Linked DNA regions of Homo sapiens. The protein of the gene in region 3 interacts with the protein of the main gene of each other region in a pairwise test. Each region holds a gene or a part of one and is shown on either strand. Other genes may lie near its edges. The genes, in order: DHDDS, FBLN5, LOX and SOS2.

Region 1 (7,043 bases), on a different chromosome or scaffold from region 3:
GAAGGTGGAGGTTGCAGTGAGCTGAGATCACACCACTGCACTCCAGTCTGGGCAACAGAGGGAGACCCTGTCTGGAAAAAAAATAAAATATGTTTTCTGTTTTTTTTTGTTTTGAGACAGAGCCTCGCTCTGTCACTCAGGCTGGAGTTCAGTGGCATAATCTGGGCTTACTGTAACCTCCACCTCCTGGGTTCAAGCGATTCTCCTGCTTCAGCCTCCCAAGTAGCTGGGACTACAGGCATGCGGCACCACACCCAGCTAATTTTTGTACTTTTGGTAGAGATGGGGTTTCACCTTGTTGGCCAGGCTGGTCTCAAACTCCTGATCGCAGGTGATCTGCCTGCCTCAGCCTCCCAAAGTACTGGGATTACAGGCATGAGTCACCACGCCTGGCCAAAAAAAGTTATTTACATAAATTCAAACAATAACAGAAGTACATAAAGTAAAAAGAAATAGTCTTTTCTTCCTTACTTCTTATCCAATCCACTGTTAATAGTATGATGTATCTTTTTAGACTTTGTTCTTTATGTATACTTATATGCACGTGTGAATGTTTGAATGTGTGTGTATGTTTTATACTATATATTCTCTGAAACTTGCCTTTTACATTTAACATTAGATTTTGGACATCTTTCCAAATCAGTGCATTTAGATTTATCTTTATTTTTAGAATGCAGTTGCATAGTATTTCATCAAATACTGGGCCATAGGATGTATGTATGTATTTTAAAAAACAAGATGTTTTTAGCAAAAGACAACAGATATTTTTGTGGGTGCATCTGGTTTTAGGCCTGAGGCTAAATGACTTTCAGCAAATTATTCATCTTTGAGCCTCAGTTTCCTTATCTATAAAATGAGGATAGAAATACCTTATGTATCTGCTGAGCATGGTGGCTCATGCCTGTAATCCCAGCACTTTCAGAGGCCGAGGGGGGGGCGGATCACGAGGTCAGGAGATCGAGTCCATCCTGGCTAACATGGTGAAACCCTGTCTCTACTAAAAATACAAAAAAAAAAAAAAACAAATTAGCAGGGTGTGGTGGCGGGCACCTGTAGTCCCAGCTACTCGGGAGGCTGAGGCAGAATGGCATGAACCTGGGAGGCAGAGTTTGCAGTGAGCCGAGATCGTGCCACTGCACTCCAGCCTGGGGAACAGTGTGAGACTCTATCTCAAATAAATAAATAAATAAATAAATACCTTATGTATCAGAACATGTCAAAAAAGGCAAAAAATAAAAAAGAGAAAAGAATTTTACATTGTATTCTCTAAAAAAAAAAAAAAAAAAGAAATACCTTATGTAGTTGTGAAGATTTAAATTCATTCATTAATTTAGCAAACATTTTTTGAGGGCCTTCTGTGTAGTATTGGCTAGTGTATTTGATGGTATTGTATAAACTGAGAAGCCTATATATGGAAGTTCACCATGAGAACACTACAGAAAGAGAATACTACAGGATGTGTGCCTCTCTTTGTCTCTTCTTGCTCATCTTAGTGATATCTCTGAGTCTCTGCTTGATAAGTGCCTCTATACCAACCGCTCTCCTCATCCTGACATCTTGATACGGACTTCTGGAGAAGTGCGGCTGAGTGACTTCTTGCTATGGCAGGTAGGTCATTTCCAAGTACTATTATGTTTGTGTCATGGGGAAACCAACTGTATCCACAGAATGGATCAGAGTGGTCCATCCCCACTCCCAAACAGGCTGGGGCCAGAGTACTTCTGGGGAAAGCTAAAATCTGGAGAAGCATCTCTAGGCTGTGTCTCATAATATTTGATGTCCATTCCTCATCTGTCGCTGGCTTTGCGAATCCAACTATAGTGAAAACTTCATTGTGCCGCTTTTCAAGGAATGGGACTTCTGTCTTGCATCCCTGAGCGTAAGCTCTTGCCTTGGTAACCTGCCAGGGACCCTAGCCCCTCTGGGTTGGAAGCTTGCCTTGCAGTTACTAGTCCCTCCCCTTCAGGATAAAGGGCCATACCTATGCAAGCATGGTAAACAATATGCAAACACTCAAGTCTCTATCCCCTGTTAACTTGGTCCCTGGAGAGCACATAACTAGGGGAAGTCCTTGTTCTGGGAGAGACTCCATTTGGAAGCAGCTCACATGATAAAGCTCCAGAAATTTTAATGGACCACAATCTTAAAAGTGAGCTAACGCAGGGCGTGGTGGCTCACGCCTGTAATCCTAGCACTTTGGGAGGCTGAGGCAGGCAGATCACTTGAGGTCAGGAGTTTGAGACCAGTCCAGCCAACATGGTGAACCCCTGTCTCTACTAAAAATACAGAAATTAGCCTGGCATGGTGGCAGGTGCCTGTAGTCCCAGCTACTTAGGTGAATGAGGTGGGAGAATCACTTGAACCTAGGAGGCAGAGGTTGCAGTGAGGCGAGATCGTGCCACTGCACTCCAGCCTGGGCAACAGAGTGAGACTCTGTCGCAAAAAAAAAAAAAAAAAAAGAAAAGAAATAAGTACAATGTGCACCTATTGGTTCTGTGGCCCACTGTGCTGCTCAGATCACGTTTGGGAAGTTTACTGATGGGCTGAATTTTAAGAGACTACAGAGTCAGTTACTCAGTGTACAGAATTAGTTACATTGACAAACTTGAGGACTTACTGGAAGAGGCCAAACTGGAAAGCAAGGAATCTCATGTCTTACAAAAAATGAGGAAAGGATAGTGGTCTGCAAAAGGGAAATAAGTGACAATGTATTCCCTTGGAAAAAAGTGTTGAGTTCCTTCTTTATGCTGGAAATATGGCAGTGAGTGAGTCAGAAATGATCCCTACTGTCTTGAAACTTATAGTTTGCTAGCAAAGACAAACTCTGAACAAGTCATTACAACTTTGGGAACTGATAACAGGCAGCTCTAATCTAGCCTTGAAATACTTGAAAGAATGTCACTTTGAAGAAGAAACAAACTTGTTCCAGAAAAAATACCTGGGACCTTAGTAGAAGTTGTAGGGAAGGTGACATTGGTTTAGCATAAAAAGCCAAACAGGCTATCGGACAACTAGTTATCCCCCATGAGGTACTGAATTCCTCACCACTAGAGATATCAGGCAGTGGCTGTCAAGAGTGTTCCAAAGGGGATTCTTCATCAGTGATTATTATTAAAGTACACCTGGCTCTTTGCTATGCATATGTTATCTCATTTAATCTAAACAGTACCCTGAAAATTAGGTATTCCTATTATCCAGTTTTACATTTGAGGAATCTCAGGCCAGGTGAAATTACCCCTGCTCAAATAAATGGTAAATGGTTGGAGCCAAAATTCAAAGCCAGGCAGTCTGGCTCCAGAGCTCATGCTCTCAACCACTGTGCCCTGCTGCTGGTACTTAAAAATAACAATGGCAGCTACCATTTGTTCATTGGTGACCTTTATCAGACAGTATGTCTTCCAGATGCCCTCTAAGGGCCAAGAGCCAATAACATAATCCAGATGTTATTTCATAGTCCTAAAATTGGCTCTTAGAAAAATCCTGGTGGAAATGTTGATCTAGTCTCGTTTTAGTTCTGCTTTACCACAGGCAGGTGATCTGGCTGCCTCAAGTGACGCCTCCCCCTACTAGTGAATGAATCAGGGCCAGCAGCAGCTGCAGCTACAGCTCAGGATGCCTGTAACATTGTCATCTCTGGGCTTCTGGGTCCTGCTTAGCCTGCTTTTTCCCTGGAGGACTGACCAGGGATGCGGCCCAGCAACATGTTACTAAATCATACTCTCCTCCCTACCTTTCCCAGACCTCTCACTCCTGCCTGGTGTTCCAACCCGTTCTGTGGCCAGAGTATACATTTTGGAACCTCTTCGAGGCCATCCTGCAGTTCCAGATGAACCATAGCGTGCTTCAGGTAAGAAAGAGTTCAGGGCTGGCCAGATGGGATGGGATGGAAGAAAAGATTAGCATTGATTGACAACCACCTTACTATATACCAGGCACTTCCTAATAAGATGATGATAATGATGATAGTAGCTACCACCTACTGAGTATCTACTACTTGTCAGGCACTGCGAACATTTTACATGCTGCAACTCATTTAATGTTCCCAAGAACCCAATGAGGGAAGTCTTATTAGCCCCTCCCTTATGTAAGTAAGCAAACAGAAATGATTTAGTTAAGGACACATAATCAGTAAGAGGTAGGAATAGGATTTGAGCTACAGGTCTTTTATCTTTTAAAGACTCAGGAGGAAAAGGCTTCTCAGAGAAACTGGCCATTATTCCTTTAAAGTATTACCCTAATAAAAGATCGTAGCAGTAGGGATTAAGAACTAAATAGCATTGTCTTTCCATTGTGTAAACCTATGTTGTGTCAAGACTTGAAGTTTGACTTTCAGTTTTCATCACCAAATCTTGAAACAGGTTTTATTAGCAGTCACCTGTATATGATTAGGTCTCTTTATAATAATGGTAGTGGTAGCTAACATATGAGGATCTACGAGGGCACTTAGGTGATTTCATGTAAGTTTTCTTATTTAACCTAACAACCCAGCAGTTTTGGTGTCCTCATTTTTCATATATGGAACCAGAGGGGCAGAGAGACTTAAGTAACTGTCCCAAGGAACCTGAATTTTATCTTTATTTATTTATTTATTTTGAGATGGGGTTTTGCTCTTGTTGCCCAGGCCGGAGTGCAGTGGTGCGATCTGGGCTCACTGCAACCTCCCCCTCCTGGGTTTGAACGATTCTCCTGTCTCAGCCTCCCAACTAGCTGGGATTACAGGCACACGCCACCATGCCTGGCTAATTTTTGTATTTTCAGTAGAGACAGTGTTTCACCATGTTGGCCAGGCTGGTCTTGAACTCCTGACCTCAGGTGATCCGCCCACCTTGGCCTCCCAAAGTGCTGGGATTACAGGCGTGAAGAGCCTGAATTTTAAAATCAAAGCTGGTGCTGCTTCTTCAGTCTGGAGAGATAATGCCAGGAGGAAATAATGATGTGAGTCAGGGATTCTTAATCTCCTTGGTATTGGGGTCCCTTTGAATAATCTAATGAAAGCCACAGACCATCTCCCTAGAAAAATCGCAGATCACTCAAATGTGGAATTTTGCATAGAATTGTAAACTTATCATGGAAACACATAGAATACTTTTTTTTTTTTTTTTTTTGAGACGGAGTTTCGCTCTTGCGGCCCAGGCTGGAGTGCAATGGCGCAATCTCGGCTCACCGAAACCTCCGCCTCCCGGGTTCAAGTGATTCTCCTGCCTCACCCTCCCGAGTAGCTGGGATTACAGGCATGCGCCACCAATCCCAACTAATTTTGTATTTTTAATAGAGATGGGGTTTCTCCATGTTGGTCAGGCTGGTCTTGAACTCTTTACCTCAGGTGATCCGCCCGCCTTGGCTTCCCAAAGTGATGGGATTACAGGCATGAGCCACCAAGCCCGGCCACACATAGAATACTTTAAGGGGGTTCACATAACTGCTGAAATCTGCCCCTGAATCCCAAGTCCATAACTCCTGCTATAAGTAAATCAAATCACAAAGACTTGATCATGTATTTAATTACTTAGTCTCAGAATATGAGGAAATTAAAAGAAGTTTAGAATTAGTGAAAAGAAAAACAGCAAAGGCACAATTATCCACTGTCAGTGGGGAATGAATATCAGATTTTTCCATATGACCAAAGCTCCCTCTAAAAACTAAAACTTTACCCTTTTTTGATGGAAAAATTTCTAAAATGTATCTTGTACATAATTCATTGAAATCTATATACCAGGCACTTGCTAATAATGATGATGATTAGGATAATCACGTGCTATTTTTTGTTTTTTTTTTTTTTTAGCAGGGTCTCACTCTGTTGCCCAGGCTGGAGTGCAGTTGTGCAACTTTGGCTTACTTCAGCCTCCCAAGTAGCTAGGACTATGGGCACACACCACCATGCCTGGCTGATTTTTGTTATTTTTTGTAGAGATAAGTCCTCACTATGTTGCCCAGGCTGGTCTTGAACTCTTAAGCTCAAGTGATCCTCCTGCTTCGGCCTCCCCAGGTGCTAGGATTATAGACATGAGCCACCATGCCTGGCCGTCATATTCTAATGATTATGATAATAGTAATTATCATCTTTAAACACTTCATTGTACAACAATATCCTTGAGGGGTAGGGCTGTTTGCTCTAAGTTAGATGGTCCCAGAATACCTGGGTTTGAGGTTTCATGTATATTTTTCTGTGTCCTCCCTCTTTCATTTCCTACTGCTGTCAACAGTTAATTTTGACAGTATCTCTCCTCTTCCATAGTATTTACTGTTTTAAATCAGCTATAGACAAGGAAACCAGATAGTCAAGCTTGTTGGAATTATGTATATAAAATGAGAGTGAACTGGCTCTGCATGAAGCCCAAAGGAGCTTGGTGCATGAGTTTTTGTGTTTTTACCTCTAATTGGGCTGCTCAGAAGTCTTTTATAGTAATTTCACGTTTCTCAGATACTTTGCATATGGTTGTCAGAGGAGTTAACTCAAGTTTCATTCATTCCATAAGTATTTATTGAGTAGTATGAATCAGGCACTGTATTAGGCACAGGAGAGTCAACAGGTAGCCAGAGGGACAAGATCTCTACCTTTGTGGAACTTGTATTCTTGAGGAGACAGAAATAAACAAGTAAACAAATATATAAGTTCCGATTGTAATAAGGCAGTGAAGAATACAGAGTGATGTGCTAGAAAGTAATGAAGAGAATGCAAAGAGACTGAGGTTAAAGTTTGGGTCTTGGAAGAACAAAAAAGAGGTCAATGTGCCAAGGGAGAAGGGCAGGAAATGAGGCTAGAGTCAGACCTTGGCTCATATAGAGCCTTGTAGGTCATGGTAACAAAGCTGAAGGACTTTAATCAGGGGATGACGGGATCTGAGTTGCATTTTGTAAAAATCATTCAGAATTTTCAACGGGCTGGAGTTAAAGCCAAGAGACAGAACTCCTGCAGTAGTCCAGGTGAGAGAGGATGCGCCTCGAGGTAGGGTGGTGGCAGTAGGGAAGGGGAGGAGTGAAGACGGGATAAAAACAAATGTTGAAATAGAAACAAGTGAAACTAGCTATATCAAGGTGATAAT
Region 2 (7,043 bases), on a different chromosome or scaffold from region 3:
TTAGAATAGTGTCTGGCACATACAGGCACTATACACGGCTTGCTGCTGATGCTGTGTGTGGAGTTATTGGGGTTATACAGGACTTACAAAGCTGTGATCCAAAGCCAGATGTTTCCCTCATTCCATCACCCCCTCCAGCCTACATACATACTTTTTTGTTTGTTTGTTTTTGTTTTTAGAGACAGGGTCTCGCTCTGCCACCCAGGCTGGAGTGCAGTGGTGCAATCATAGCTCACTGCAGCCTTGAACTCCTGGATTCAAGTTATCTTCTCATCTCAGCCTCCAGAGTGGCTGTGGTTACAGGTCATGCCACCACACCTGGCTAATTTTTTAATCTTTTTTTGTAGAGACAGGGTCTCACTATGTTGCCCAGGCTGGACTTGAACTCCCGGGCTCCAGGGATCCTCCCACTTCAGCCTCCAGAGTAGCTGGGATTACAGGCATGAGCCCCTGTGCCCAACTCTACATATATTTTATTAAACACACTTACTAGCCTCCATCTCAATCAAGAGGGGTTTTCAAAAAAAGAAAAACTGTTTAGAGATGCAGGCCCCTGAAGTTCAAGGATGCAGAAAGTGGTACCAGACTGTCTCCAGGAGAAGTCTGGAGATGTGAGCCCTGAGCTGCCCCACACCATAGAGAGGAACGGGGAATGCAAGGAGCTGATGTTGACATCCTGAAAGGCCCTTGTGTAAGGTCTGCTGCCAGGATGCAGTGATACCCTCCACCTCACTACCACCACGGCACATCTGTATGAGACATAGCCCCAGAATTAGGGGCTGAGAGGTTTGGAGTAGCAGGTGACCAACCACAGGCCCTACTGCCCATATCAGGGACTGGTCAGTGTGAAGTCCTCAGGCAAATCTCCAAAAGACCCACAAAAGCACCCTGTGAGAGCAACAGCTTTGGGGGCTCTGCTCCTGAGGGAATACCAATGCCTGGTTACAATGGCTACAATCGGGGAGGAGCCTCACTCTTCCAGCCTTACCCTTTCTACCACCTGCTCCTCCCCTGCCAGCCCTGGAGGAGCCAGGGCCAGCACTACCATTACCGGGAGGGTGACAAGAGGACAGGGCAGAGGCCAACCACACCCCTTGCCTGCTCTGAACTAGGAGACAGGGAGAAACTTCACAGTGGGTAAGAGACAGAGAGGTTGAAGTTTCCATTTAAACTAGTACAGACTTTTGACGTGAGAGAATGAGACAATCCAATAGAAATGGAACATGCCTGTGAATCCTAGGGAATTGACGTGAGATGTAACCCAGGTGCTCACAGGTTTGATCCAACAGCGTGAGAAAAAGAAAAAGTCATTGACTGTTTCACCCCCACCACCAAACTCCACTTCTTTGATAAAAACTGTATTCCAGATAGGGCACTAAGTGGATAATCTCATCTAATCCTAAAGTAAACACTCATCTAGAGGTCCAGAGGTGTTAGGTCACATCACACAATTGTGAAATTGTTAAACTGTAGAAGACATGGCTCCAGAGCTCACATTAGAATGACTGAGTGGTTTCCCGGGGAGGGTCCCGCAGCTTCAGACAGCATGGACCCTCGGAAAGCCAGCCTTATCGGGAAGATTTCTGTCTTCCTGCCTTGTGGCCCATGACTTCATAGGGCCCAGTCTCTAATGAAAGCATATAAACGCCCATGGACCTTTTCAATATGGCTCCCCACAGTGACCCTGGAAGATCACAGCAGCATCTGTTAGAAATGCAGATTCCTGGGTGCAGTATGCTGGGTAGTAGCCCCCAAAAAGATGCAAGTCCTAAATCCTTGGAACCCGTTCCGTTATAAGGAAAAGGGTTTTTGCAGATGTGATTAAGAATCTGGACAGAGAGATTATCTGGATTGTTTGAATGGGCCCTAAATCTACTCGCAGGTGTTAATATAAGAAGGAGACAAAGGGAGATTTGATACACACAGAGGAGGAAGAGGAGGCAGCGTGACCACAGAGGCAGATATTGGAGTGATGCAGCCACAGTCAAGAAGTGCTGGCGGCCCCCGGAAGCTGGAAGAGATATGGAACGGATTCTCCTCTAGAGCCTCCAGAGGGAGCACAGCCCTGCTGACACCTGGATTTCAGCTCAGTGAAACTGATTTCAGACTCCTGGCTTCCAGAACTATGAGAGAATAAATTTCCTTTGCCTTAAGTCACCAAGTTTTTATTGTTTTTCAGAGATGGGGTCTCGCTCTGTTGCCCAGATTGGAGTACAGTGGTGTGATCTCAGCTCACTGCAACTTCGACCTCCTGGGCTCAAGCAATCCTCCCATCTCACACCACCTCCCCGCCACACTGCCCCAGGTAGCTGAGACTACAGGTGCCTGCCACCATGACCGGCTAACTTTTTTTTTTGTAGAGACAGAGTTTTGCCATGTTGCCCAAGCTGGTCTTGAGCTCCTGAGCTCAGACAATCTGTCCACCTTGGCCTCTCAAAGTGCTGGGATTACAGGCATCAGCCCCCGTGCCTGGCCTGCATAGGAGGTACTTAAGAAATACTTGTCACATGGGTTGGTTGAAAAGTGGAGACGTGAATGCCTCTCCAACAGAATATTAGGAGAAAAGAGACCTAAGATTGCATCTTGGCCTAACTTCCCATTTCACAGATGAGGATCCTGAGGCTCAGGAGGAGAAGCATCTTTTGCAAGACTACACAGAAAGTGGTGGAAACCAGGACCTTGAACCACACCCTCCACTCTTCTCTCTGCCTACCTGTCCCCCAGCCCCACTCTTACCTGCTTGCATACAGCACGTTCCTAGGAGAGACAGCACAAGGCCACTGTTACAGATGGCGTCCCCACTCCCCACTCCCTCTTACCCGCATGTAAAATTCTCTGCCCTCATTCCCAGATTTGATCTGGAAAATGTAATAGGCCCCAGGGTAGCGGGTCGTGGCTTGCATTTGGAAGATGTCAGCGGGAACGGAGCGTCCTGACACCACGTCCATGTCCCGGTACAAGATGGTAAAGGGCTGGTCTCTGCAGCCAGGGTTCTCAGCAGGACACATACAGCGGCTGTGGAAAGGGAAATCACGTGAGAACTCAAGAAATCCATTCCAGGTGCTGGCTGTGCCTACTTCCTCTCTTAAAACACTGAAAATGAGGCCACCCCATTTTTAGCATCCAAATGCCATAACTGTAGAATGTCTCTGCTCCTGGCTTGAGTCTAAAATCTCTCCAGCATGTAGGCGAGCTCTGTTTCCTAGAGAATGGACTTTTCTCACCAACCAGATGTTCTGGCTACTAAATAGAATACAAACCTTAGATCTCTGGTTTTCAGAACATTAGAACATTCTCCAAGATACTTTACATTTGCCACGTAGGCCAAATATGCCACTCCAGCCTGGGCGGCAGAGCAAGACCCTGTCTCAAAAAAACAAAACAAAAAAAAAGGAAGAAAGAAAGAAATTTTTAAAGTAAGAAACTGGATTAACAGGTCTTGGGGATCCTTGTACATTCTCTATTGTGCTCAGCCCAGTCTGCATGGAATGTTACTGAATCGAATATAATCAAATCTTGTCATTCGATAATTGATAAGCAAGAGTTAGAACTATGTACAAGATGTGACATTGGACATTTTGGAAATTCAATGAATAATAAGATCCTGACCTCAGATAGTTTACTTTCTAATAGGAGAAATAAACCACAGACACAAATATCTCTAATACAAAGCAACTATTAACAGAGTGCCCTAATATAAAATCACTGACTTTTACTACCAAAGAATGCCTGTTATAGACACCCCTTGATTCACCCCTAACACCCCCTTCCTCTGTCTCTGACCCTGCCCTGAGACTCCACCTAGGGGCCAGGGTTCACAATAGGATGAAGATGTCTGTTGAGACGCGCGGTGGTGGCCAACGCTAGGAGTCAACCTTGCTGTGTTTCTGCCACTAACTTCCAATCTATCCACAAAACCTGTTGGTTCTACTTCCAAAAGAGAGTCCACATCCAACCATCTCCAGTGCCTTCAATGCACTCTTGCCTTCTCGCCTTTGCACATGCTGTTCCTTCTGATCTTCCACTCTCTATTTAGTTAAAGTCAACTCATTTTCCCATTCCAGCCCAAGTGTCATTTTTCAGAGAGGCCTTTGGACTCCTCCATCTAAACCATCCAGCCTACTCTTCCTTTTTATAAATTTCCATTCATTCTGAGCAGAGTATGGTGTCTCATGCCTATAATCCCAGCACTTTGAAAGGCTGAGGCAGGAGGATGACTTGAGTCCAGGAGTTCAAGACCTCTGGCTTTACCAAATACATATATATGCCAGGAGCACTGGCACACACCCATAGTCCTAGCTACTTAAAAGGCTGAGGCAGGACGATTGTTTGAGCCCAAAAGGTTGAGGCTTCAATGAGCTGTGATTGCACCACTGCGCTCCAGCCTGGGTGGCAGAGCAAGTTTCATTTTTTTAAGGCTGCATCAAAATAGCCAAGTCAAAATGTCTCTAGTGCCAAAATGGCCACAATAAAGTATCATGTGCAGCATAGAAAATCATTGTTTCCTAAAAGAAGTTTGGAGGAGGGAGTGATGGCTCCCAGCTGAAGAGGACCACAAACAGCTGGGAGAGGTGGCATCTGAGCTGAAATCTGAAAGATGGGGCAGGACTGGCTATGTGGAAATGAAAGGAATGCCTTCCATATGGCCGGAAGTATGTGCACACAAGAAGGGAGGCTGGCCATTCCTGGGCACGGGTAAAGGCATGAGCAAGTCCTGTTCAGACTGGCAGGAGCACAGGACACCTGAACTGGACAAGGAGCTGGAAGGGGCTGCCGGAGTCTGACTGGACTGGAGCCTGGAGTGAGGGAGTCACGGAGCATTGTCAGCGTCATGCCAGAGACTCCACCAGTAACTCCAGCTCAGTGCTGCAAGCTGAAATGGGTCAGCTCCCCAGCCACAGACGGGGTGGCCTGGAAAAACCCAGAGAGAACCAGGAATAGAAGCTGGGAAGAGCAGCCTGGAGCTCTGCTCTGCCACAAACAGGCCTTACGTCGGGGGTCAAAGAGCCCTGTTCTAAAGGGTTGCTTAGTAGCACAGCTCTTAGCAACAAGTGAAGATGTCCCTAAAGGATCCGCCTGTCCCGGCATTATCCTCTCTTTTGCCAATTTGTTATCAAAGTGGGTACCACTGGTAAGCCATGAATTCCTCTCTTAGAGGCTGTATTCCGAGAGGGCAGGATGGGTGTGTCTGATTCATCCTTTCGTCTCCCATGCGGGGTTTGGTGTTGCTCAAGGGAAGTCGATGTGTGAACATTTGGAATATAGGAGGCCAAGGAGGAACTGAGATGGTTTAAAAAAGGGATAAAAGAGAAGGAAAAGGAACTCCTACTATGCCAGGAACAGAAAGCCACTGTCCTACTGCATTCACCTTTTGGAAGTTGTCTTCACTTTAATTCTCTCCTCAACTCTAATATTTGCCGTCTGGTGATTTAGTAAAATGTTGACCAAGATGACGTCAGAAACTTGATTAGCACCAACGAGAGAACTCTCCAGCACCTCAATACTCAACTGTCCAGCACCTCAATACTCAACTCTCCAGCACCTCAATATTCACGGAGCAGTCCAGGGAGATTGGAAGCATTCATTTCACCTGGGAGCTTGCCAGAAAGGCGGAATCTTGGGCCCCACCCCAAACCCACTGAATCACACTTTAACGAGATCACCAGGTGAGTCCTATGAGTGTTACATTTAGAAGCCAACCTCTGAAAGACCCCATGTATCCAGAACAAAGTCATTAGAGGGAAGAGGAGATTCTAGAACCCTGACTCAACTCTCGGCTTGGTTAGCTTTCTAGAGAATCTTTGCATAGCTCTGGCATGAGTAGCGGAGTGATAGAGAACTCTGTGGGAGTGTGCGTGCGTGTGTGTGTGTGTGTGTGTGTGTGTGTGTGTGTGTTTTGAGACAGAGTCTCACTCTGTCACCCAGACTGGACTGCAGTGGCACGATCTCAGCTCATTGTACCCTCCTCCTCCCAGGTTCAAGCGATTCTCATGCCTCAGCCTCCTGAGTAGCTGGGACTACAGGCCCGTGCCACCAGGCCCAGCTAATTTTTTTGGTATTTTTAGTAGAGATGGGGTTTCACCATGTTGGCCAGGCTGCTCTCAAACTCTTGAGCTCAGGCAATCCACCCACCTCAGCCTCCCAAAGTGCTGCGATTACAGTCATGAGCCACCGTGCCCAGCCTTGCATGTGTTTCTTACTGTGTGTTGTGGTCAAACATTTTGAAAAATAGTTCTTTCTTGTATATAGGGATGTGTTTCAGACCCTATAACTTGGAATGGAATGTTTTGCAAACTTTTTGACAACCTACAGTAACACACTTTGCACTGCAAACCAGTAGCACACAAAACTAAAAGATAAGTTTCAAAAAACAATATTGACTCTTGCTATGTGCAATGTACTCTGATATTTTCTATTCCAGTCTGTTCTATCTATTCTACTCTGTTCTATTCTACACACACACACACACACACACACACACACACACGCATGAGCACATGACGTAGGTAGTAGGCCAGGTCCCCTCACTTCCTGGCTGGTGCACTCTCTTTCACACCACACCTCCAACCTCCTGAGCCAGGCCCTCATCAGGTTTCTATTCCCCAGGGGGACGCCGTGACTTACTTATCACTGATCCTCAGATAAGGCTCCTCACAGCGGATGGGGTCAATGCATTTGAAGCCCCCTTGTAAATTGTAGCACGTCTGCTGCAGGTTGCACGTGTGGTTCCTGTGCTCACATTCGTTGATGTCTGAAATGCAGGGGAGACAAGAAGCGGAGGCAGGGCATTATTGGCCAGGCCAGACGCGTGGGGGTGGGGTAGGCTGGATCTTACTACAGAGCTGTACTATCCAATATGGCAGCAACAGGCCATATGTGGCTACTGAGTACTTGGAATGTGGCTGATCCAAATTGAGATGTGCTGTAAGTAGAAAATACACACCAGATTTTGATGACTTAGTACCAAGAAATAATGTGAGCCAGGCACAGTGGCTTACGTCTGTAATCCCGGTACATTGGGAGGCTGAGGCAGGAGGATCACT
Region 3 (5,565 bases):
TTTTTGTGGGTTAATTTTGTGAGTTGTTCCCCCAAAACACTTGCCCAAAGTTTGGGCCTGTTTGCCCTCTCATGTTACCAGATTTCAGGCTAATCTGGTGCATATTTAAATAAGGATTACTATGATAGCAATGTGTCTCTTTATACAAATAATTTGTAGCTAGAATTAGATGTGTGTGTGTGTATGTGTGTGTTTATATCTATAGTCAGATATATTTCTTGTAAACCTTAATTAAAGCAGTGTGATTGTTCTTGCAATGCCTGCTCTGTGTCCTTATAAGTAGCTGGTACTGGTGATAAAAGTTTATGTATGACAGTGTCTACTTAAAACATCAGCTAGATTTTTATCCATCATAGACAAATTTCCAGTGTGACCTAATTAAACAATTTTTTAGTACAAAAGGCAATTAAGAGAAACTAACACCATATCCATGGCTTATAACATTTCAACTAAAATGAAAATCAGATGATTTATTTATATAACAACAAATGACTACTATAGACACTTGAAATCATTTATTCAAGGCATTTTTATATAATCTTGCAATCATAGTATAGATGTATAATAAAAGAATATGAGAATGCAAAGAGGAACATAAAGCCAATGTCTGAGCATTTAAAATAAGAGTTCTTCAAAAAAGTTACACGTCTTACAAATAACATTCCTGAAAAATTTGGGAGAAGCTAAAACTTCACTAAAAACCTAACACCAAATGACATGTTACTTAGTTTATAGCAAGCAGTTTTATATTAATTAAATGTTTATATACCACAAGCTAAGATTTAATGCATTTTACATTCAGATTTAAATAACTCAGCACCATTTTAGCTTAGAGGATAAATGAAATGTTTAGTGTTTAAAAGTGGCCCAGGAATTTTGGTAGCTAGGAATGAGACTTAACTCACTGATTGAATATGTTGATTGTGAATATGAGTTCAAAAAAATATGTATATATAGAAAAAAGAGTACTTTTTAGTTATCAGTTAATACACTGATTCGTATCAAAACACATTATTTTTAAAACAAAATATCTCCTTACCAGGAATTCAGTATTTTCATGCAATCTGCTAAAGATTAACTCTCAGTGCCAGGAAAATTTTAATGAATTGCATTTCTTCTAGAATCCGAATATTGGGAATGTTTATAAGTGTGACTATCCTATGAGATTTCAAAGAGAAAAAAAGTACTACAAATAATGCCTAGTGAGTAATTGGATGATAGAAATTGTAAATAAAGTTATTCTATAAAAATATACAGATTTTCTGGAAATAGGCAAGTTGTATTCTCATATATGTTATGCTAGCCTCAGAGGTCAAGACATCTTTAACCCAGACTGTGGTCTGAATCATCATGAGATCGCTAATATGGCATATTGTAAACTGACTCATAAACTCTGAAATTATGTTCCTATTTAGTCCATTTTCTGTCTTTTTTAGTGTAAAAGCCAATCTCCTGTCAGTACTCAACATTCTTTTTATCATTGCCAGTTCCTATTTTTTAAAATGTATTTAGAGTTTGGTAAGACTGGTCTGTGTTATTTTATTAATTGATAACCTTCATCAACTAATTATTATCTTTGAGTTTCGGCAGTTATTCAGAGAAGAGATTCAAAGTTCAAAATAGTTCAAAGAAGTTCAGTAATACAGAGTGTTAAATCAGTACTTGTGAGTTATTTGGGTGTGTTTAGAGGTGCCAGGAGGGGGATGAATGTTCATATAAGGAATAAAGTAGTATTTTTAGCTTCCTAATTGAAAAAAAAAAATCGTCAAAATTAACCAAATAGTAGGTGTTATATTTAAAAGGCAGACATTTCAGGGATTGAACACATTTTTAATTATTAGAAATACATACATGCATATAATTAACCTTTAATTTATTTTTAAAAATAAATTATGGTCATGAAAAACAATAGTGCTTAAAATTGAAATTTCATAGACATGTAATTTTATTCCCTAAAAATGAAATAAGATGAACCTTATGGGTAATAATGGGATTTTTAATACTTATTGAGGTTATAGACAGTCTTTTTTATGTCTCAATGCATACCATGTGAGTACTTGGCATATATTAGGCCTTCAAATGATGATGGATGGATAGACAGATAAAAGGCCCAATGAATGATTGTAAATGTGTCTTCTCCTATGTATCCATGATGATATTGCCTAGTTTTTAATACAAGCTTAAGAATCAATAAAATGATAGATCTGAAATCTGTAGATGCCAGTCTGGCTCAGTATTAATACTGACAGTAGTTTTTTTGTTTTTTAAGAAAGCAAGTATATTAAAATATCTCTGTTAGAAAAGATTACAATTTGAAAGGATCATTCTACAATCTTAGAACTAAAAAGCAATTTAAGGCAAAGAGGTACATCAAAGAAGCTATTCCATAGCTCAGTTACAGCTCAACAAAAGCTCTGTCTGTATTGTCTACTGGTAAGCTTGTGCCCTGGTGGCTAAGGATCATATGTACCGCTATATCCGCCAGTTGATGACTGTCCATCTCTAGCCCCTCTAACCATGCTATGCACCCAGTGAGTGCAGAATGATTACTAGTAATTGATGTTGACTTTACAATTCTATGACATGTAATACAGGATGCCGAGGCACTTTTAAAATTCCACCTAACATGTTCTGGCACTGGAAAATCTTACTTGAGATTTTAATACTGGTTAATATAGGAAAAATTATGCTTAAGCACCACTAACTTAAAAGTGTAATTTCATTTTCTTGAATTTAGGTAAAAGCAAAATTCTCAAAATTCTATTATGGCACATGGTTTCACAGTTTCAAATGAAATCACAGCTGTCTCATTACGCAGCACAGTCCTTGGTTTTGCAGAAAGTATATTTTTCCTTTGTTCACCAACCCCTCAAGTATGTAATACTATGTGCTTTGCTAATTTAGACTATATCTCAGACACACACACATGTGTGACTGATTCCTGAATAACCCAGGATGATGTTCCTGTGTTCTAGATAATATAAAATTTTTAACATTCCTCTAATAGCTGAACATCTTTTTAAAATCTAGAAAACTTGAAAAATCCTAAAATGTTTTTCAATTTTTTTAAGCTATTTGAGAGACAGTTGTGGTTTGGGGGGGACTTGTTTGTGTGATTTTTATGTCAGCAAGAAAATTGTATCTTTGGCAAATACTTTAATATGTTTAAATGCATTTTACCTCTGGATGTATCACATCAGTCATCAAAATGACTTTCCAGTTTCACGGCTGCCTTATGTATACCAGTCCCAAGAATGGTGATATTAAGAATCCCACTTACAACATCTCTGCCCATGGGAAAGATAAAATGATAGAGGGCAGCCTCAAGAAATATCAGACAGGATTGGGCAGCTCCCTTACTTAATTTGTTCCAAAACAAAAGTTGACTCAAGTCAAAATGAAATTGTGCACTTGAAAGAAAGGAAGTTATCTACTAATTTTTTAAATGTAAACATACTTTTTATATAGGGATGTAACTATCTGAGTACATGTATTGCCATTTCTCTGCTATATAGTAATATTTCTTGACACCAATGGTAATGTGTTTGTTTCTTTCTCAGCACCAGATGTGTCCATATGTATTTAAACAGTAGGAGCATTGTTTCTAAATTCATCTATGCTATGACATATATAAACCCATTATTATTATGTTTCACTAAAGTTCCAGCACTTTAGAAAAGTTTCAGTTCAAAGTCATTTTGGCTCATTCATTTAGATAATACTGACCATTTTGCACTACAATTTCAAAAGGAACATGAGAAATTTGGATTTCTTTGAAAGAGTCAAATATGTAATTACAGAATTGAAACACTGTGTTAATTCACAAAGTGATGTAAATAATAAACATTAAAAATTTCCCAAGTAATGATGACTTAAGCGTTCAAAATCCAGTTATGTGCTTTGTTATTGAAAACAGTCCAAACAAAAATTCTTTTGTTGTTTTCTGTTCTCTTTTTCAAAATACATAAATCCTACTGAAGTTAGTCTATTTTTTCCCACTTCAGAACACCAGGCACTGATTTATCCATTGGGAGTTTTGCTTTGCCTTCTAATACCTAGATTAAGAAGACAAAATAAGACAAATTATTAACCTGATAATATAATGAATGAGTACAACAGACAAATTTAAAGTCAACCTTTTAAAAACTTTATGCAACAGTTTCCCTCCACCTAAGCAGCAATCATGTTGTGAAATTATGCAGTAGTACATCATTTTAATAATGGTTTGAAGAAAGTGACTATGTCAACAGCAGAGATGCCTGATGCCTACACTCTTCACATTTAGAGGCAAAGAAACCACTTCTGAAACACTCAAGAGTACAGCAGGACTTCTGGGACCAGCATCCCTGACCAGGGGAATTCATTCCATGGAACAAGGGTGGCATGTCCACCAAGAAGTAGAGTCAAGGCCTCTGCTCCATCTTGAATTAGTCCTTCTCCAGCATGGCTTTGGATGTAGAATAATACATTAATAGGCAGAAACTGGACCAAAGCTAATCAATCAAATATTACTGTCTTTAAATGTGACCATAGATCTTCATGTAAGGAAGTGAAAATTCACTTATTCAAATCATAAACTACCAATTTCCAAACAGTAAATTCTGTGAGGAGAAAAAAAAAAACTTACATAGTATCTTATAACTGAAAGAAGCCTCAGAGTCACCTGGTCCGTACATTTTGTTTCAGTGAGGAAAATGAAGGAGAGAGGGTACATTAACAGCACATACCTATTCAACTATTTACTGGGTGGCTTTTACACATCAACAGAATGCTCTTAAATATCTGGCAGGAAAAGCAATCAGTGAACTGATACATGATATGTCTTCAGAGTCACACTCACTGCTGCTTACACAGCCACCAGACTGACCTGATGGCCTTAGGCAAGTTACACTTCCTGCTCAAAAAGCTTCAGCCTCCCACTGCCTCCAGAATAAATTTTAGCCTGCTCTTCAGGGCTGTCTTCCATCTGGCTCAACTTACTTTTCCATCCTTTTTGTCCAACTCGTAACTCCACAAAATTCATGCTTTAGCCAAACTAGAAGACTTGTTTTTCCAAACATGCCCTGCAGTTTCCTCCTGCCATGCAAGTTGCCTGTGACGTTGACTTGCCCTGGGCTTCCTTTCCTTAATGCTCCCCGGTGCATTCCCCAGACTTCAAGGCTCAATTCAAATGTATCCTAAAGTCACTCCTGAAACTCAGCCCAAAGAGACCTCTCCTCTGTCTGAACTCTGATTCCTAGGAAGGAAGGCCTGATGTGAAAGTCAAAATGTAAGAAGCAAGTATTACTATCCTGAAGGTGTGGGGTTTTTTTCTCAAATATTCTATACTTTCCCCAATATTTCCACTCAGAATAAGTATGACATTTTATTATGATCACTAATTATAATTTCACTTTTCATATTTTCATCTGGTTTATATTAGTTATAAACATTCCAGCTTCAACCACTCTTGAAGTTTGTTACAGTCAGTAATAACTAGTAAAAAAAAAAAAAAAAAAAAAAATTCAACTCTATATGAGTGACCACATCAGGAATCCCTCTTGTACAGTCATATTGCTGGAGCAA
Region 4 (7,043 bases), on a different chromosome or scaffold from region 3:
AATACATATTTTTCTTACCGTTCAATCAGTAAGCTCAGCAATTCCTGTGGTTTACAAAATGAACGATATGTGGTAAGAAAAGTACGAACAAAATTGGGATCTGAAAAGGCAGAGCATAAAATAGGTTTCATGTTTAATGTATTCAGTTTAATTAACTCAAAGTACCATATTTGGAGGCCTTCCTCCCTTTTTCTTTTTACTTTGGCTCCTCAGATTGTGGCTTTTCCTAACAATCATGGTACTGGCAGGATACCATGGTATCCCTGCCATACATAGAGAAATACTGACATAGAGAATATACTATGGTATATCCTTAATAAGCGAGGATTGTTTTCAAATTTGAAATTCATGAATATGGCTGGGTGAGGTGGCTCACGCCTATAATCTCAGCACTTTGGGAGGCCGAGGTGGGCGGATCACGAGGTCAGGAGATCGAAACCATCCTGGCTAACACGGTGAAACCCCATCTCTACTAAAAATAAAGAAAAAAAAAATTAGCCGGGCATTGTTGCGGGCGCCTATAGTCCCAGCTACTCGGGAGGCTGAGGCAGGAGAATGGCGTGAACCCAGGAGGTGGAGCTTGCAGTGAGCAGAGATAGCGCCACTGCACTCCAGCCTGGGCAACAGAGCAAGACTCTGTCTCAAAAAAAAAAAATTCATGAATATGCATATTTTATGAATATTTATTCAATAATTAATGAAGTTAACAATATTACATTTTTAGACCTTTAATTCCTTCTCTTATTTATTCCTTTTGTTTTTGCAGTATTTTTATATTTTGGAGGCAATCCATTTTTTCCCCAAGCCTCAAATATTTTTGAGCATCCTTAAAAAGCTTTTGGGTCCCAGGCCCTAGGTCAGCAGTTGTAATGAGTTTCACATACCTGCATACATATGATATGTTAACCTTTCAATTAATTTCACTACAGTTCCTCCTTTAATAATGGGGATGCCACTTCTACTTTGCAAGTTGTCTTCAAAAACAATGTTTTCCTCAGAGTCTTTTACTACAAAACGATATACTTCAGGACTTGGTAATCTCAGTGGTTGCTCATTTTCTTCTTTCAATAATACTGAATCTAACATTCGATCTAGAGTACTACGATAATGAAGAGAAATAAGGGCTGCCATCCAGTTGTTTTTTTCTTCAGCAGACTTAGCAGCAAATATTATGCTGTTCTCATCTTTGGATACTAATTCAAATGCATGCTTGTGCTCACAAGTATCTTCTTTATCACAAATTTGTATTTTCCTCATGACAAATTTTTCTTTTAACCTGTATTCTGCACTACTGTAACCTGGAAGCCGAGTCTGGCCATGATTAGGTTTACAACTGATCATTAAGCCATCAAACAGAAAAATATGCCGTTCATGTTTGGCACCGATTCTTGTCAATGGTCCCTCCATAATGAATTCATTACAACACTGTCCAATATCTTTGCCTTCCCATCCATCGATATTTTTCTGAATTTCATTCATTTTTTTGATAGCCAGGTGTTTGCTTCTTAATTGGTGACTATAAAAAGGGCAAACAGGATCTCTAGAAAAAACAAACAATATAGCTTATTCAACAGCTAGCAACCCAAATGGTTTCAAGCATAAACCATCTCAAATCAAGTGAGTAAAATATTAAATAACCAAACAGTAGCTTTTACGCACAGCATTTAGTTCTAACTTTGCCACTAAATAATACAGCCCTCAATTTCATTATTATGAAAGAGAAGTACTACTGGCTCTATAAGAACTAAAATTACAAAAAATCCTAAATTTCTTTCATAGATTATATTTTTAAACATTTATTAAGTCTATCCTAATAATATAACAATGCTAATCTTTTTTTTTTTTTTTTTTTTTTTTTTTTTTTTTTGGAGCTCTTGTCCCCCAGGCTGGAATGCAATGGCACGATCTTGGCTCACTGCAACCTCCCCCTCCCAGGTTTAAGTGATTCTCCTGCCTCAGCCTCCCGAGTAGCTGGGATTACAGGTGCCTGCCACCACGCCTGGCTAATTTTTGTATTTTTAGTAGAGATGGGGTTTCACCATGTTGGCCAGGCTGGTCTCAAACTCCTGACCTCAGGCGATCTGCCCACCTTGGACTCCCGAAGTGCTGGGATTATAGGCGTGAGCCACCGTGCCCAGCCAACAATGCTAATCTTAAGACTAGGCTGGGTTGGCCAGGTGCAGTGGCTCAGACCTGCAATCTCAACACTCTGGGAGGCCAAAGCAGGCAGATCACCTGAGCCCAGGAGTTCAAGACCAGCCTGGGCAACATAGCAAAACCCTATTTCAACAAAAAATACAAAAATTAGGCAGGTGTGTTGGCATGTGCCACCCAGCTACTCGAGTCCCAGCTACTCCAGAGGGTTGAGGCAGGAGGACTGCTTGAGCCCAGGAGGTTGAGGCTGCTGTGAGCTGAGATCACATCACTGCACTCCAGCCTGGGCAACAGAGTGAGACCCTGTCTCTTAAAAAAAAGAAAAAAAGGCTGGGCGCAGCGGCTCACACCTGTAATCCGAGCACTTTGGGAGGCTGAGGTCAGGAGTTTGAGACCAGTCTGGCCGACGCGGTAAAACCCCGTCTCTACTAAAAATACAAAAATTAGCTGGGCATGGTGGTGGGCTCCTGTAGTTCCAGTTACTTGGGAGGCGAAGGCAGGAGAATCATTGGAACGCAGGAGGCTAAGGCTGCAGGTTGCAGTGAGCTGAGATTACACCACTGCACTCCAGCCTGGGCAAGAGAGACTCCTTCTCAAAAAAAAAAAAAGGAAAGGAAAAGGAAAAAAGAGAGTAAAAGACCAACATAAAAGTATATAAAAGTATGACAAGCACAACTTTCAATAATGTAACTATCACAATAAATCACACTTCTTTGAAAACCAGGCATCAGAGACAGCGAAGTAAGCAGAGGCATTCACGTTTTCAACACTTTGGAATTACCCAGGTCGACGTCTAGGTGAATACTGCTTGTAAATTCGGTCCATGCTACCTTGGAGATTCATGAGAGCAGTAATAGCTTGGTTCAAACATTCTCTGTCTTCTTGTTCTTCACTACATGCTTTCAATTGCTAAGAAAAAACAGAAAGAAAAATCAAAACTGCATTGTTTGATTCTTCCCCCAACTTTCTAGTAATAGAAAAAGCAGCAACAAATATTATCAACTCTAAGTTAATTTTATATATACTTAATAAAAACAGCTATAATTTTATATATACCTACTGCCCTCTCAAACCAACCCTTTTTCTTTCTTTTTTTTTTTTTTTTTTGAAACAGGATCTCACTCACTGTGGCCTTGAGCTCCTGGGTTCTAATGATCCTCCACTCTCAGCCTCTCAAGTAGCTGAGACCACAGGCGAATGCCACCACACCCAGCTAATTTTTAAAATTTCTGTAGAGACAGGGTCTCGCTATGTCTCCCAGGCTGGTCTTGAACACCTGCTCAAGCTATCCTTCTGCCTCTGCCTCCCAAAGTGCTGGGATTACAGGTATGAGCCACCAGTCCTGGCCCAACCTTCTTTCTATAAACATAAACACAATACAGATATAAACTAACATGAGCATAGTAATCAGGAAAAAAAAAAGCAACTGTAAAAACCATTCGGACATTTTATTTTTATTTTTTATTTTTTTGAGACAGGGTCTTACTCACTCCGTCACCAAGGGTGGAATACAGTGGCAGGGCTAACTGCAGCCTCGATCTCCTGGGCATAAGGCTTCCCGAGTAGCTGGGACCACAGTTGCATGCCACCACATCCAGCTAATTTTTTTATTTTTATTTTTTGTAGAGATAGGGTCTCACTAGGCTGGTCCCAAACTCCTGGACTCAAGCTATCCTCCCATCTCTGCCTCCCAAAGTGTTGAAATTACAAGTGTGAGCCACTGTGCCAGGCCACATTTTCCAAACATATTTAAAAAGTTTAAAACACCTAAAGCATGAAGCTTACAACTTACTTTTATTCATTAGCAACTATGAATAGAGAAAATAAGTAACTATAAACTATTTCATATTCTCTAATGATTACTTTGTTTTAGCAATTTCAAGTTTACAAATCTTTGTTATATAACATAATCAAGGGTACTAACTTTTAACACTTCAATCTATCATAAACTTTTCCGTAAACAGCATCTCTCAAAGGATTCCACTGCTATTTTTTACAATATGAAATGTCAAGAAACCATGAAAATTAATTCTATCTCAATCTTTAGAAGATTTAGAAACTGACTTATTAATCTCTAAAACTCTGGTTCTATTTCATTTGCCCCAAAATGTTCTCTTGTATTTCACTCTCAGAAAGAAAGCAAATTTACTTATAATAAATAATTCAGATTGTATTGTATTGTGCTCCAATGTTTTGATTTTTTTTTTTTTTTTTGAGACAGGGTCTCACTCTGTCACCCAAACTGGAATACGGTGAGGTGATCATGGCTCACTGCAGCCTTGCCTCAACCTCCTGGACTCAAGTGATCCTTCCATCTCAGCCTCCCAAGTAGCTAGAACTACAGATGTGTGCCACCATGCTTGGCTAATTTTTTTTTTTAATTTTTCTGTAGAGATGGGGTCTCACTATGCTGCCCAGGCTGCCCTCAAACTGTTTTAATCTTTTGAAAGAAGAGTTCAAAGTGGAACATCATATAGATATTATATATATTATGTATTTATAAATATATATTTATGCAAGGATATGGGGAATTATGATCACTTCAGAAAATTTTTAAAAACTTAAATCTATTTTGTGATCTTTAACTTATTAGAGATTTTGTGATAAATTAAAATTTTCCTTATATTCCAAGAGCAATCTCAAAAGCATTCAGCAATGGTTCCCTTTCCTCAGCAAAGAACTAACTGGCTATTGTTTGACAACTTTGTCCATTACCTTTTATTTATGTCTTAGAAATTAGTCTCTATATGAAGCACAGAGCCATTTGATTTTATTTCAAGACACATGTAGAGGTCTTGTCATCAAGAGATTAGCAACATAAATAATGTAAATGACTATTATTAGAAGTAATACCTTAATCTCTAGACTAAGCAATAGAAAGGATGGAAGCAAAGTCAAAATATCATAGAAAGTTTGAAAAAAGATCTGTGCTTGGTTATTCTGACTTCTACAGGTGAAAGTTACTGGCAAAATCACTTATTTTGCTGCTTTAAAGATTTCTTACAGAAAGTCTTCTCAGCTCCACTCTAAAATATTTCTTTAATAAATATGAATGTTGATGACATCAAACACTTAATTAGAACTGTTTTATTCTTGTTTTTGTTTATCCAAATATCTAAATTATCACCAGTAGTGATATCCTACCAAAAAGGTATGATTTTCATTGTCTACTTGGTCTTAAGGCTGCTCAAACTCTTCCACGTGTCATTTTTAAATAACCATGTAATAATTATAAGCTGTAAAGGAGAACAAAATTGAGGATATTTAGAGTGGGATTTCCTGGTAATGGAAGTATATTAAACAACGGCTCTGTTTGGCATAATAATCTGATAATTTGCTAAATATTTCTTGAATTTTCAGCAGTGAGATTTGATAAACATCATATTAATGAATATCCAACTAATATTCTACAGATACTTAAAAGAATGTGTTCCAAACATCTTACACAGAAATTACTGGGCCAGGCAAGGTGGCTCACACTTGTAATCCCAACATACTGGGAGGCCAAGGCGGGCAGATCACTTGAGCCCAGGAGTTCAAGACCAGCCTGACCACACGGAGAAACCTTGTCTCTACAAAAAATACAAAAATTAGCCGGGCGTGGTGATGTGCACATGTAGTCCCAGCTATTTGGGAGGCTGAGGTGAGAGGATGACCTAAGCATGGGAGGTAGAGAATACAGTGAGCTGAGATTGTGCCATTACACTCCAGTCTGGGTGACAGAGTGAGACTCTGTCCCCCGCAAAAAAATGAAAATAAAAATAAAAAATACAAAAAAAAATTAGCTGGACGTGGTGGTGCATGCCTGTAATCCCAGCTACTCAGGAGGCTGAGGCATGAGAATCACTTGAACCTAGGAGGTGGAGATTGCAGTAAGCCAAGATAGCACCACTGCACTCCAGCCTGGGTGATAAGGCGAGATTCTGTCTCCAAAAAAAAAAAAGAAAGAAAAAGAAAAGAAAAATTACTGTACTGAACTATGTGCAAACAAGTAATGTACTTTCATGCCCCCATTCGCTTTCTACACAACAGTCTCTGACCTCCTTATCCACCCGGTGAATTTAGCCACTAGGATACAGTTGAAATGCTTCCTCTTGAAGATGCCTTCTGATTATGCCTTTTCCCTCTTAAATTTTTTCTTTTGAAATATCAAATTTATAGAAAAGTTGTAAAAGTAACACAAATAACTCCTGTAATACTCTGAATCACCAATTTTTAACATTTTGTCACATGCTTCATCATTCTGTGTGCCAGTGTGTGCAGATCGTTTTTTTAGTAGTTGTGATACTATCCACTCAGTTCCTTCCAGAGGAAGGGGGACTACGGCTGAATGGTTTTGCAGTAGTTTTTGGAATATAAGGAAAAGTCAAATGTATCACAAATTACTCTCAAATAGTATCATTCTCCTTTACTCCTTTAATATTTCTCATAGCTCATCTTACAACAAGGATTTTCTTTTACAGAATCACAGTATAGTGATCAACTTCAGGAAATTTAACACCGAGTAATCTACTGCATAATCTAATCTATAGTGTATATTCCAATTTTGCCAACTGTTTTAATAACATCCTTTAAGGTAATATTTTCCCCCAAAACAGGAACTGGTCAGTGAAGCACTAAATTGTCATGTTTCTATTGTCTCTTTTATTCTGGAGAGTTCCTAAGCATTTGTCTTTCATGACTCCCGCAAATAAATAAGGACACACACACCCGCGCACACACTGTTCTCTCTCTCAGTAGGACGAATACCCAAAACCATTATGTATTTTTTTTTACTCCACTGAACAAAGGAAAAATCAATAGGAATTTTTTTCTGCCTTCCCTAAGCAGAGCTAGTAACTCCTGCTTCATTGATCTCATAGTACTACCTCTATTAGGCTCTTATAATA

The links.
Region 1: the proteins of LOX (region 3) and DHDDS interact in a two-hybrid assay, tested with the Homo sapiens proteins (one study listed by BioGRID).
Region 2: the proteins of LOX (region 3) and FBLN5 interact in a two-hybrid assay, tested with the Homo sapiens proteins (one study listed by IntAct).
Region 4: the proteins of LOX (region 3) and SOS2 interact in a two-hybrid assay, tested with the Homo sapiens proteins (one study listed by IntAct).

The regions. Positions count from the first base shown.
Region 1 is NC_000001.11:26,456,298-26,463,340, forward strand, and holds part of DHDDS (dehydrodolichyl diphosphate synthase complex subunit DHDDS), read left to right. Parts: intron 1-1,493; coding exon 1,494-1,608; intron 1,609-3,739; coding exon 3,740-3,847; intron 3,848-6,458; exon of another isoform or gene 6,459-6,573; intron 6,574-7,043. UniProt on the Homo sapiens protein: With NUS1, forms the dehydrodolichyl diphosphate synthase (DDS) complex, an essential component of the dolichol monophosphate (Dol-P) biosynthetic machinery.
Region 2 is NC_000014.9:91,874,668-91,881,710, forward strand, and holds part of FBLN5 (fibulin-5 isoform 1 precursor), read right to left. Parts: intron 6,752-7,043; coding exon 6,625-6,751; intron 3,016-6,624; coding exon 2,820-3,015; intron 1-2,819. UniProt on the Homo sapiens protein: Essential for elastic fiber formation, is involved in the assembly of continuous elastin (ELN) polymer and promotes the interaction of microfibrils and ELN. Stabilizes and organizes elastic fibers in the skin, lung and vasculature.
Region 3 is NC_000005.10:122,062,695-122,068,259, forward strand, and holds the end of LOX (protein-lysine 6-oxidase isoform 1 preproprotein), read right to left. Parts: intron 4,056-5,565; coding exon 4,049-4,055; 3' UTR 501-4,048; downstream 1-500. UniProt on the Homo sapiens protein: Responsible for the post-translational oxidative deamination of peptidyl lysine residues in precursors to fibrous collagen and elastin. Regulator of Ras expression. May play a role in tumor suppression. Plays a role in the aortic wall architecture.
Region 4 is NC_000014.9:50,158,547-50,165,589, forward strand, and holds part of SOS2 (son of sevenless homolog 2), read right to left. Parts: intron 3,064-7,043; coding exon 2,936-3,063; intron 1,541-2,935; coding exon 885-1,540; intron 101-884; coding exon 19-100; intron 1-18.